Homo sapiens: one gene and its partners. The protein of the gene in region 2 purifies or fractionates together with the protein of the main gene of each other region. This does not show direct contact. Each region holds a gene or a part of one and is shown on either strand. Other genes may lie near its edges.

Region 1 (3,649 bases), on a different chromosome or scaffold from region 2:
TCAGAACGTGCCCCAAAGCTGTTGGGTTCCTCCAAGCAACTCTCTAGTGAGAGGCAGGGCTGTTCGTTGGCTAGACAGGTTCTCCACACTCTCCACCCTCACCCGCACCCCTGCACCAGGCAGGATGACAGAGAACCACCAATAGATAGCTGCTTGGCTAGGCTCACGCCCTTCTGCCAGGCTTCTCCAAATAAGGGCCACTGGAAGAAAAGTGTCTCTGCCTCATCTGCAGAACTGCAGATCAACTCTGCCCACTGAGCCCTCCGGCCCGAGTTAGGGCTTTGTGAGTCACATACCTTCCAGAACGCAAGCCGGAGTAGGTGTCGGGGGAATGGGCTCTCTCACGGTAACCACTCCTAACGGCCCCAACACATTTGTAGTCTTCATCTGTTCTTTATGGAGCCGGAATCATGAAGCCCCCTGACCCTTAGGCAACTTGCTTTTATCACCTGGTGAGTTCTTAAGGAATCCTGCTTTGGTTTATTTATGTATTTGCCTGTGTTTTACAAAGCTGTATCCCTCATTAGAGATATCTCTACTGCAAGCAAAGTGCCCTGACAGCATGTGGGTCTTCTCAGCCTTCAGACACGTGGTGCCAGGGATGCAAACCACGCTGTGAGAGCCGGGGCGGGCAAGCGGGCCGGTGGGAGCCTCACCTATGCGCCCCAGCCCGATGATGCCGACAGTGCTCTGCGTGAGTCCATAGCCACACAGCCAGAGGGGCTTCCACGAGGTCCAGCCACCACTGAGGGGAGAGAGAGGGGCAGGTGAGAGGCCCAGCCTTGGACCAAGATGGGGGCCGCTGAGAACCCGGCACCTCTGACTGTGGTCCAAGGTATAAACCCACCCTCCAGGTCACGGACTGAGAGTGGGATGAGGCACTGCCACTCGGCACTGCAGATGAGCAGCAGAAACGACTCCACCTTTAAAGCCACCAGAGACATAGAACTTGAGGGCGGGAAGGGGCCTTACTGGCTCTCATCCTGTTTTGCAGATGGGAAAACAAACCAGAAAGGGTGACTTGCCTGAGGTCACACAACCAGGGAAGAGTTGAGAGCAACAGGCTGCAAACTCAGGATTTATGATTCCAAAACAAGTTCTCTTGGCACTTTAGGGCAGCAACAAAGAGTACAGCCACAGGGCCCACCCTGCTGCCCTGGGCAAGAGATGGAGCCTGCCCTGAGCCACCTCCAGTAGATGTGATGACTCCCCAGACAGGACAGTGAGCAGGACTCAGCACTGTCTACTCTGCTCCATGCCCCGTGCCGGGGCCCACGCTGCTGGCCACGCACTGTGAGAGCCTGCGTTTGCACGCCTCCCACCTTGACTCGGGCCAGTCCCTCCATCTGCACATGGAATGCTTCCCCCAACTTTTTTTTTTTTTTTTTTTGGAGACAGGGTCTTGCTGTGTCGCCCAGACTGGAGTACAGTGACATGATCTCGGTTCACTGCAGCCTCTGCCTCCTGGGTTCAAGCAATCCTCCCACCTCAGCCTCCCGAGTAGTTGGGACTACAGGCGTGTAACACCACGCCTGCCTAATTTTTGTATTTTTTGTAGAGACAGACTTTTGCCACATTGCCCAAGCTGTTCTCCAACTCCTGAGGCTCAAACAATCTGCCCGCCTCGGCCTCCCAAAGTGCTGGGATTACAGGTGTGAGCCACCGTGCCCGGCCAACTCTAACTCTTGATATACAGGCCGAAATCCCTGATCTGAAACCTTCAGGCTAGATTTTAAAACTGTTTGGCCTTTAGAAAGGCAGCATGGCGCACGTGGTAGATTCCACACATCACCCTCTGCAGTGTCTGGGCAGCAGCCTGTTTTAAAAGTGTTACATCTGCAGCAAAACTTAGGAAAGTCACATTAAATGGGAGAAATAAAAGCCTTAAATAGTCTCCTGTTAGTATGAAAGAACTTTCAGCTGTCCGAGCTTTTTAGATTTTGGGATCTAAGGGATGGTGGACCTGCAGCTTTCAGGACTCAAGCGGACGCCCACCTGCTACTTATTCTGTGAAGCCCTCCCTGATCCACACTCTCCCTGCCAGCCCTCACCCACCAGCAGAACTTGTTTGTCCTCCCTCATCCTCTTCTCTCACCACTTCCCTTTCTGCCCTTATTGCAGCTCTGCTTTGTGCTTTATTTTAGCTGAGTCCTCACTCAATGGGGCACACCTGGGGTCAGGGACTATGCGTGGGCTGGACTGGCACAGTGATCAGGATCCAGTGCTGAGCAGAGCCAACGTTCCTGCCAGGCGTTCACTTATTTTTCTTTTTTTTTTTGAGACAGAGTCTCACACCGTCACCTGGGCTGGAGTGCAATGGTGTGATCTCAGCTCACTGCAACCTCTGTCTCCTGGGTTCACATGATTCTCCTGCCTCAGCCTCCCAAGTAGCTGGGATTACAGGGACCCACCACCACACCCAGCTAATTTTTTTTGTATTTTTACTAGAGACGGGGTTTCACTATGTTGGCCAGACTGGTCTCGAACTCCTAACCTCATGATCCGCTCACTTTGGCCTCCCAAAGTGCTGGGATTACAGCCGTGAGCCACCGCACCTGGTCTGCGTTCACTTACTTCTTCACTTCCTCGATGGCCTCCGGCAACCGGCGGCAGGTGGTAAGTAGCAGGGAGACTGCGAGTTCGGCGGTGGTATCTGTCAGGACATCTGGGGTGTAGCCAACTCGGATCCCACTACGAATCAGACATCTGGTGGTAACATCAGCCTCAACCATATTTACCAATGTCTACTGCTGGGACATTTCCATGGAGTTACTTTGCTCCCTCTTTGATCTGCCTGCCAGGAAGCTCAGAACTATAAATGAGCACTCAAAAACGGGCAGTCCTCATTCCTATTTAGATTATCTCCCACTTTGGAAGGATATGAAGATGGAAGATCAGGGTTCAGGGACTGAACAAGTAACTTAACCTTTCTGAATTTCCTCATCTGAAACAGAAAGAATAACACCTGCCTTTGCTACTTCAAGGTATTGTTGTGGGGATCAAAAAAGATAATGAATGTGAAAGGGTGCCACCTACACAGAAGTTACCCACTGTTTCTGACTGCTGGGGTTTATTGTAACTGACCTGTGCACATGTGGACAGATTCTATCATCAGCCACCTCACATTCTCCCTGAATGGCCGAGGGATATGCAGTAAAAACAAATCAACAGCTCTTCTTTCTCTCATAGCCACCCCTCTCTCTAGGCCCCCTCCAGATCCCAAGCTGCAGTTACCGCTTCTTGATTTCATCCAAAGCCAAGTGGTCGATGCCCACAGACATGGTGCTGATGACTTTGAGATTGGCCCCTGTTGTGCAGAAAGTGCATTGTTAGTATCTTTCCTCGAGGAACTCAAAGCCACAGCACTGGGGACTATCATGGGGACACCGCTTATTATTGTTTTCTTAGAATAAGAGGCTGACATCTCTGTTCTTCAGTTAAAACTCTGAATAATCCCCTTTGACAGCCTCAGACACTGCAGTTCAGGGAGGTTAAGTGGCCTGGCTCAGTCACAGGCAGAGCCGGGTTCACCTCAGGGCCTCTGCCACCAAGGCCCCGCTCTTACCCACTGGACTGTCCACCCAGCGAGGCCTCCGGTCTTCTTTAGCCACGCTGGGGCCTCCCCCATGGACACCTCTGAGAGTGCCAA
Region 2 (3,649 bases):
TTTAGTCTTGAGTGCTGTCCAGAGGTACTTGCTTCTCCAGAAGGGGACACTGGTTTCTGAGCCTGCTCTGAGCCACTTGCATTCAGTAAATTTGCTGTTCTTGACAATTCTTTCAAACTAGATTCATTACTGAATGACGCCTTGGGCATTCCCTTTAATGTGAGAGTCACATATTAAAAGACAACACGAATTTCTTTAGTTCTTTACGGCTTGCAACATGTTTTCATATGCATGACTCTAGTTAATGTTCAAACCTTGAAAATACCTAGAGTGTCTAAATACTAGAGGGAAAAGAGAAGGTCTAAGTGAGTAGTGAATCTGGGACTCTAACCCATGTCTTAAGGCTCTTTCCTTCAACTTTCTCTAAAATGTTCTATGTAAGTCAAAGGGAAGGAGGAGGAATACTTGGGAAGACTAGCTGGAGAATCAACAAGATCTGTGAAAGAAGGGGGTAAGGGCTTACAAAGAGAAGGAGGGAATCTTCCATAAACTAGTAGACTTTTGATAGAAGGGGAAATGTAGAGAAGCACAGAGGGACAAAGCACTTCTGGAAAATGAGGTAATAGAGCAGTAAGATTGGGAACAGAACAAAGAGACGATTGGCAAAAATATATCTAGACAACCAAGAAAATGATGTCAAAGTTGCATGTTGCCATATCCTGGAAAGAATATTTGGCTTTGGAATTAGATTAATTAGTTCCTGTACCACTTCTGCTTGTCTGCTTGAATAAGGGTGTATTGTTAGCTAATTCTCTTTAGTTTCCTGATCCAGAAATTGGCATACATGCTTTTTTTTTTTTTTTTTTTTTTGAGAAGGAGTCTCGCTCTGTTGCCTAGGCTGAAGTGCAGTGGCACGATATCAGCTCACTGCAGCCTCCACCTCCCAAGTTCAAGAGATTCTTCTACCTCAGCCTCCCGAGAAGCTAGGATTACAGGCATGTGCCACCATACCCAGCTAATTTTTGTATATTTATTAGAGACGGGGTTTCACTAGGTTGGCCAGGATGGTCTCGAACTCCTCACCTCAAGTGATCCACCCACCTCAACCTCCCAAAGTGCTGGGATTATAGGCATGAGCCCCCACACTCAGACCATCAGACCATGCTAATTCTTTTTTTTTTTTATTTTTTTGAGAGGGAGTCTCACTTTGTTGCCTAAGCTGGAGTGCAGTGGCACGATCTCAGCTCACTGCAGCCTTCACCTCCCGGGTTCAAGCGATTCTCCTGCTTCAGGCTCCTGAGTAGTTGGGATTACAGGTGTCCACCACCATGCCCAGCTGATTTTTGTAGTTTTAGTAGAGATGGGGTTTCACCATGTTGGCCAGGCTGGTCTCGAACTCCTGACTTCGGGTGATCTGCCCACCTCCACCTCTCAAAGTGCTGGGATTACAGGTGTAAGCCACTGCCCCTGGCGCTAATTCTTAATATTGTAGTGAACATGAAAGATAATAATGTTCACCAAAGTGTTTTTTGAACTACTTAATACAGTATGAATGTGAGATTAATAATTTTTCTCACCAGGTGCAGTGGCTCACACCTGTAATCCCAGCACTTTGGGAGGCCAAGGCAGGCGGATCACCTCAGGTCAGGAGTTTTGAGACCAGTCTAGCCAACCCCATATCTACAAAAAATACAAAAAACTAGCCAGGTGTGGTGGCGGGTGCCTGTAATCCCAGCTACTTGGGAGGCTGAGGCAGGAGAACAACTTGAACCCAGGAGGGGGAGGTTAAAGTGAGCCGAGATCACTCCACTGCACTCCAGCCTGGGTGACAAGAGTGAAACTCTGTCTCAACAAAAGAAAAGAATTTTTCTCACAGACTGGGTGCAATGGCTCACATATGTAATCCCAGCACTTTGGGAGGCCAAGGTGGGAGGATGGCTTGAGCCCAGTAGTTCAAGACCAGCCTGAGCTACATGGCAAAACCCTGTCTCTACAAAAAACGTAAAAATCAGCTGGGCATGGTGGTGCATGCCTATGGTCCCAGCTACTCAGGAGGCTGAGGCAGGAGGATCGCACTAATCTAGGAGATGGAGGCTGCAGTAAGCCGAGATTGAGTCATTGCACTCCAGCCTGGGCGAAAGAGCCAGACTCTGTCTCAAATCACCCCACCACCACCCAGAAAAATAACAAACAAATGAAAATTATCTCATAGTCCTGATAACATCTCTACAGTTGAAATCTAACTCAAAGATATTTTCAGCATTCCTTGACCCTGTTACTTATAGTTTAATTCATAAACTTGGAATCAGTCATTCAGAAAACACTAAGGAGGCTCTCAGAGGCCCTGATCTGGGCTTGGGAGTTCTGAGAAGAATCAGATATGGACCAGACTCCTGAAGAGCTCACAATGAAGAGGCAGCAGGCAGGCTAAACAAATAATTCCAAACAACATGACAGTTCCCTAATTGGAGCCCAGAGGAAGGAGCTGTTACTGCCTTCTGTAGGAATGAGAATTTGAAATCAGTTCCAGAAGAATATATTTTTACTTAATAGGATGTAACCTATATGAAGTCTTAAACCATTTTCTTATTTGTTGTTTCTCAGTCTTCAAAGCTGAAACTCCTCAGGGCTGGAAGCTGCTTCCTCTGATCAGAATGGGTCCCTTATGAGGGTAGGGACCCTATCTCCTTCTGGGACCAAACACAGTATGAACTGTCTATTTACTTGGAAGCTTCCCTTAATCAGAGTGTTTCAGTGCAAATCTCACTTTACCATAACAGAGAAAAACTGAGGTTAAAAAGTCAGTTGGACGAATGATGTAACACATATGGGTAAGACAGCATAAACTTTATAAAACTATGAAACTTTTAATGATCTTGTGTTAATGATCTTGTAAGTGCTTTAGAGAAGGAGTTTTGGATTAGACTGCACCAACACTGAATGTGATCCCAGGGATATAACTGAACATTTTTATACCTCAGTTTTCTCATCTGTAAAATGGCTATAGTTACAACATCTACTTAATAGGTACTATATATAAAGTTGAATAGGAACTATATGTAAAGTTTATTCATGTAAAATGCTTAAAATAGAGTCTGAAAATACTGAGAAAATAACACCATGGTAGCAATTATTGTTGCTGTTCTTATTAACTCTTAAAATAATGATGATGTCAGACACTGTGCTAAAGAGATCAGGAAAAGAAGGCATTAGTTCCTATGATAGTCTGTACATTCTCCTCCTCTTACCTGTGTTTGGATCCATGAGGAAGGTTTCTTGTCAATAGGATTTGGGAAATACTTACCTTCTGGTGTTTACGCTGTTCCACTCTTAAGGCCATCCAAGGAGGTTTGACTAAAAGGTGATGAGAAATCAGTGGTTTGGTTGGTAAATGTTTCCAAACACTAGAGATTCTCTCTTCTATTTTTTATTTTTATTTTTTATTTTTGAGACGGAGTCTCCCTCTGTCGCCCAGGCTGGAGTGCAGTGGCTCAATCTCCACTCACTGCAACCTCCCTCTCCCGGATTCAAGCGATTCTCCTGCCTCAGCCTTGTGAGTTGTTGGGAACTACAGGTGTACGCCACCACACCCGGCTAATTTTTGTATTTTTAGTAGAGATAGGGTTTCTCCATGTTGGCGATGCTGGTCTCAAACTCCTGACCTCAGGTGATCCACCTGCGTCTGCCTCCCAAAGTGCTGAGATTACAG
Region 3 (4,191 bases), on a different chromosome or scaffold from region 2:
TAGCAAGAACCAGGTCTCTAGCAAAGAGCAAACATTCAGTAAATTGTTTCTGAATCTATTAATAAATGATAAGAAAAGGCAAGGGAAATCAACATCCTCACTGCATGCCTTCAGACGTGTGTTTCCTATCAGATACGGGTATTCCAACAGAAACTGGAGAAAAGAAAATACAATGCATTCACTGGACAGAAATATTGTGGACGGGGGGCAAGCATTGGGACAGTGGTGAGCAAAATTATTCTTGAGGTCCCCATTAATCAAAATATTTGTGGCATCCAGAAGCTTGAATCTTTAAGGACAAATATGAATCTTTACCCATCTTCTTTTACTCTTCTCTCCTTTCTCCTAAACTAACTCTAATATATACATTTACTTTTAAAATTTCATAAAGCCTATCTAATTGGGAATTTAGGTCTCACTCCTTGTGGACACCAGAAGGATATAAATGATTAGGGGAAATCCCACCAAACAGAAAGGGCAAGAAGATGTATGAATGAGTAGTAAGCTCAAGAACAACCCATCAGTCCTCTTCTTTATTTTACCCCCAAACCAAAACTTAGGGATGAAGCTTCACGAAGCTCTCTTTTGTGAAGGAGAGAGGCCTGTTCCGTTGCCAAGGAGTGCAAAGCTGCACATTGGCTTTGGGATGACATTGGGTATAAAATTTATCACTTGTGATATCCCTGTGTGATCTTCTACACACATTGTTTAGCTTCTCCAAGACTTTTCTTTGGAAAGCCCACATAGAACAGAAAAAAGAAATGCCATCTTTTAAACTATCTATTTAACTATCTTGTGGCCCCATGTTTCCAAGGTTGGGGTATTGGGAGAGTTGGTGAAAGAGCAATATGTCAACATTAACTTGTCTCCAAGCAGGCATGACTTTCAATATCAAATGGTCACAACCTCCAACTTTTAATGGATCCTAAATGAGTGCTTCAAAAATACTGTCATTTGGTAATAAAGTCATACTCGAAGTAACACTTATTTGGCTGAATTTCCAGAGACTGGAGAGAAGGTTAAGATCCAGGTGGTTGCTATGACAAGAGCATGATGACTTATTCATCCAACACTTTGTTGATGTCAGTATGATATAGCCCTTCAGTTCATGGTTTAAAAAAGCAAAGGGAGGGCGGTTGCGGGAGGGAGCGGGGCAGGCGCTGTGGGCCAGGCCCCTCCTCTGGCTCCTGCACCACCGCCTCTTTTCGGGCTCCGCCGGCTCCCGCCGTCCCTGCAATGCCGCTCTGTGCCCGCCGTCCTGAGAGCCCGCGCGGCACTGGCGCCAGCCTTGGCGGCGCGCGCGGGGCCGTGGTCGTTGCTCCCTGACTGGCCGCGGCGGCCTCCAGGAAGCGGAAAAGCAAGGGGCGGTCGAGCTGGGCCGCCGCGCCCCACTGCTCGCCGCGCTGCTCTTTGACCTCGCAGGGTGTGAAGAAGATGCGCAGCTCCACGCTGCAGGACCCGCGCCGCCGGGACCCCCAGGACGACGTGTACGTGGACATCACCGATCGCCTTCGTTTTGCCATTCTCTACAGCAGACCAAAGAGTGCATCAAATGTACATTATTTCAGCATAGATAATGAACTCGAATATGAGAACTTCTCCGAAGACTTTGGACCACTCAATCTGGCAATGGTTTACAGATATTGTTGCAAGATAAATAAGAAATTAAAGTCCATTACAATGTTAAGGAAGAAAATTGTTCATTTTACTGGCTCTGATCAGAGAAAACAAGCAAATGCTGCCTTCCTTGTTGGATGCTACATGGTTATATACTTGGGGAGAACCCCAGAAGCAGCATATAGAATATTAATCTTTGGAGATACACCCTATATTCCTTTCAGAGATGCTGCCTATGGAAGCTGCAATTTCTACATTACACTTCTTGACTGTTTTCATGCAGTAAAGAAGGCAATGCAGTATGGCTTCCTTAATTTCAACTCATTTAACCTTGATGAATATGAACACTATGAAAAAGCAGAAAACGGAGATTTAAATTGGATAATACCAGACCGATTTATTGCCTTCTGTGGACCTCATTCAAGAGCCAGACTTGAAAGTGGTTACCACCAACATTCTCCCGAGACTTATATTCAATATTTTAAGAATCACAATGTTACTACCATTATTCGTCTGAATAAAAGGATGTATGATGCCAAACGCTTTACGGATGCTGGCTTCGATCACCATGATCTTTTCTTTGCGGATGGCAGCACCCCTACTGATGCCATTGTCAAAAGATTTCTGGATATCTGTGAAAATGCTGAGGGTGCCATTGCAGTACATTGTAAAGCTGGCCTTGGTCGCACAGGCACTCTGATAGCCTGCTACATCATGAAGCATTACAGGATGACAGCAGCCGAGACCATTGCGTGGGTAAGGATCTGCAGACCTGGCTTGGTGATCGGGCCTCAGCAGCAGTTTTTGGTGATGAAGCAAACAAGCCTCTGGCTGGAAGGGGACTATTTTCGTCAGAGGTTAAAGGGGCAGGAGAATGGACAACACAGAGCAGCCTTCTCCAAACTTCTCTCTGGTGTTGATGACATTTCCATAAATGGGGTCGAGAATCAAGACCAGCAAGAACCCAAACCTTACAGTGATGACGACGAAATCAATGGAGTGACACAAGGTGATAGAAGTCGGGCCCTGAAAAGGCGAAGACAATCAAAAACAAACGATATTCTTCTCCCATCTCCCCTGGCTGTGCTGACCTTTACACTGTGTAGTGTTGTCATCTGGTGGATTGTTTGTGACTACATTCTTCCCATCCTGCTATTCTGACTCAAAGATTTCAGAACATAGTAGCCATCAGGACCCCCTGACAGATAGCTGCTTCTCTCCATTTCAAGGACTAAAATGGTTTTGCATTAAGTAAAAACCTGTGACCAGAACTGAAGGAAGACTCTAGGAACTGAAAACTGCAACAGAAATTAGCACAATTTGAAAACAAAACAAAATTGCAAAAGACTTAGTTGCTTTCCACCTAAGAAGCTAATCAATGGGGAAAATGTCCACGGGGTTTCAGTAATGAACTTTTGAGTTTGGGTGCAAGCAAATGTACCAAGACCAGCTCAGTCAGGGAGACCCTACCCCAGTGGTGCTAGAGGAATTAAAGACACACACACAGAAATACAGAGGTGTAAAGTGGGAAATCAGGGGTCTCACAGCCTTCAGAGCTGAGAGCCCCGAACAGAGATTTACCCACATATTGATTAACAGCAAACAAGTCATTAGCATTGTTTCTATAGATATTAAATTAACTAAAAGTATCCCTTATGGGAAACGAAGGGATGGGCCTAATTAAAGGCATAGGTTGGGCTAGTTAACTGCGGCAGGAGCACGTCCTTAAGGCACAGATGGCTCATGCTATTGTTTGTGGCTTAAGAATGCCTTTAAGCAGTTTTCCACTCTGGGCTGGGTGGGCCAGGTGTTCCTTGCCCTCATTCCGGTAAACCCACACCCTTCCAGCGTGGGCATTAGGGCCATTATGAACATGTTACAGTGCTGCAGAGATTTTATTTATGGCCAGTTTTGGGGCCAGTTTATGGCTGGATTTTGGGGGGCTTGCTCCCAAAAAGAATGACTCAAAGAAAGGCCCAGCTCTCAAGCTGAATGACAAAAATGCTGTTGTAAATTTAGTCTCAGGTGTAAATACCCAAGCCCTCTGGTACTCAGGGAGCTGGCTGGTCTGTGGTGCATGTGTGTCCTTGTGATGGCAAGCATTGTAGTTGATGGCCTTCAGAAGAATTGAGGATCTGATGGAGGTTTTTTAATGTATTTATTTTCTGTTCAGCTTGTGACCCTGTGTCAAAATTTGTAAAGATACAAAAGGCATTACTGAAATGGTACTTTCTGTAATTTGATACTATTTGGCTTTACCATCTTCACTTGACTGTTTGTAATACTGTAGTAATATTAACTCTGATAAGTACCCAAGCTGCTTGTCTTCTACCAAAGAGTGCTTTATTAACAAGAATCTGTGAAAACCACATTTTAAACACTGTTGCATGTTGTAATACCAGGTGATACCTTGGTAACCTAAAACTTGCAAGAGAATATTAGTGGTAGCTTTAGAAGACTCAGGAGGAGAAACTGACTTCAGAGCTGGAAGATGTTGCAAGTCATTCCTTTTTCTGTCCTTTAGGGACTGAAGAACTGGGAGGTTGCCCATTGTTTGGTTGCCAGTCATACAAA

Evidence for each region.
Region 1: the proteins of PRDM9 (region 2) and GRHPR purify together in Homo sapiens (affinity purification with mass spectrometry; one large-scale study listed by BioGRID and IntAct). This does not show direct contact.
Region 3: the proteins of PRDM9 (region 2) and CDC14C purify together in Homo sapiens (affinity purification with mass spectrometry, with the first as the bait; one large-scale study listed by BioGRID). This does not show direct contact.

Annotation. Positions count from the first base shown.
Region 1 is NC_000009.12:37,425,580-37,429,228, reverse strand, and holds part of GRHPR (glyoxylate reductase/hydroxypyruvate reductase), read right to left. Parts: intron 3,308-3,649; coding exon 3,235-3,307; intron 2,692-3,234; coding exon 2,575-2,691; intron 746-2,574; coding exon 657-745; exon of another isoform or gene 388-656; coding exon of another isoform or gene 297-387; intron 1-296. UniProt on the Homo sapiens protein: Enzyme with hydroxy-pyruvate reductase, glyoxylate reductase and D-glycerate dehydrogenase enzymatic activities. Reduces hydroxypyruvate to D-glycerate, glyoxylate to glycolate, oxidizes D-glycerate to hydroxypyruvate.
Region 2 is NC_000005.10:23,517,526-23,521,174, reverse strand, and holds part of PRDM9 (histone-lysine N-methyltransferase PRDM9 isoform PRDM9 B), read right to left. Parts: intron 3,295-3,649; coding exon 3,245-3,294; intron 153-3,244; coding exon 1-152. UniProt on the Homo sapiens protein: Histone methyltransferase that sequentially mono-, di-, and tri-methylates both 'Lys-4' (H3K4) and 'Lys-36' (H3K36) of histone H3 to produce respectively trimethylated 'Lys-4' (H3K4me3) and trimethylated 'Lys-36' (H3K36me3) histone H3 and plays a key role in meiotic prophase by determining hotspot localization thereby promoting meiotic recombination.
Region 3 is NC_000007.14:48,923,239-48,927,429, forward strand, and holds the start of CDC14C (dual specificity protein phosphatase CDC14C), read left to right. Parts: upstream 1-1,308; 5' UTR 1,309-1,434; coding exon 1,435-2,778; 3' UTR 2,779-4,191.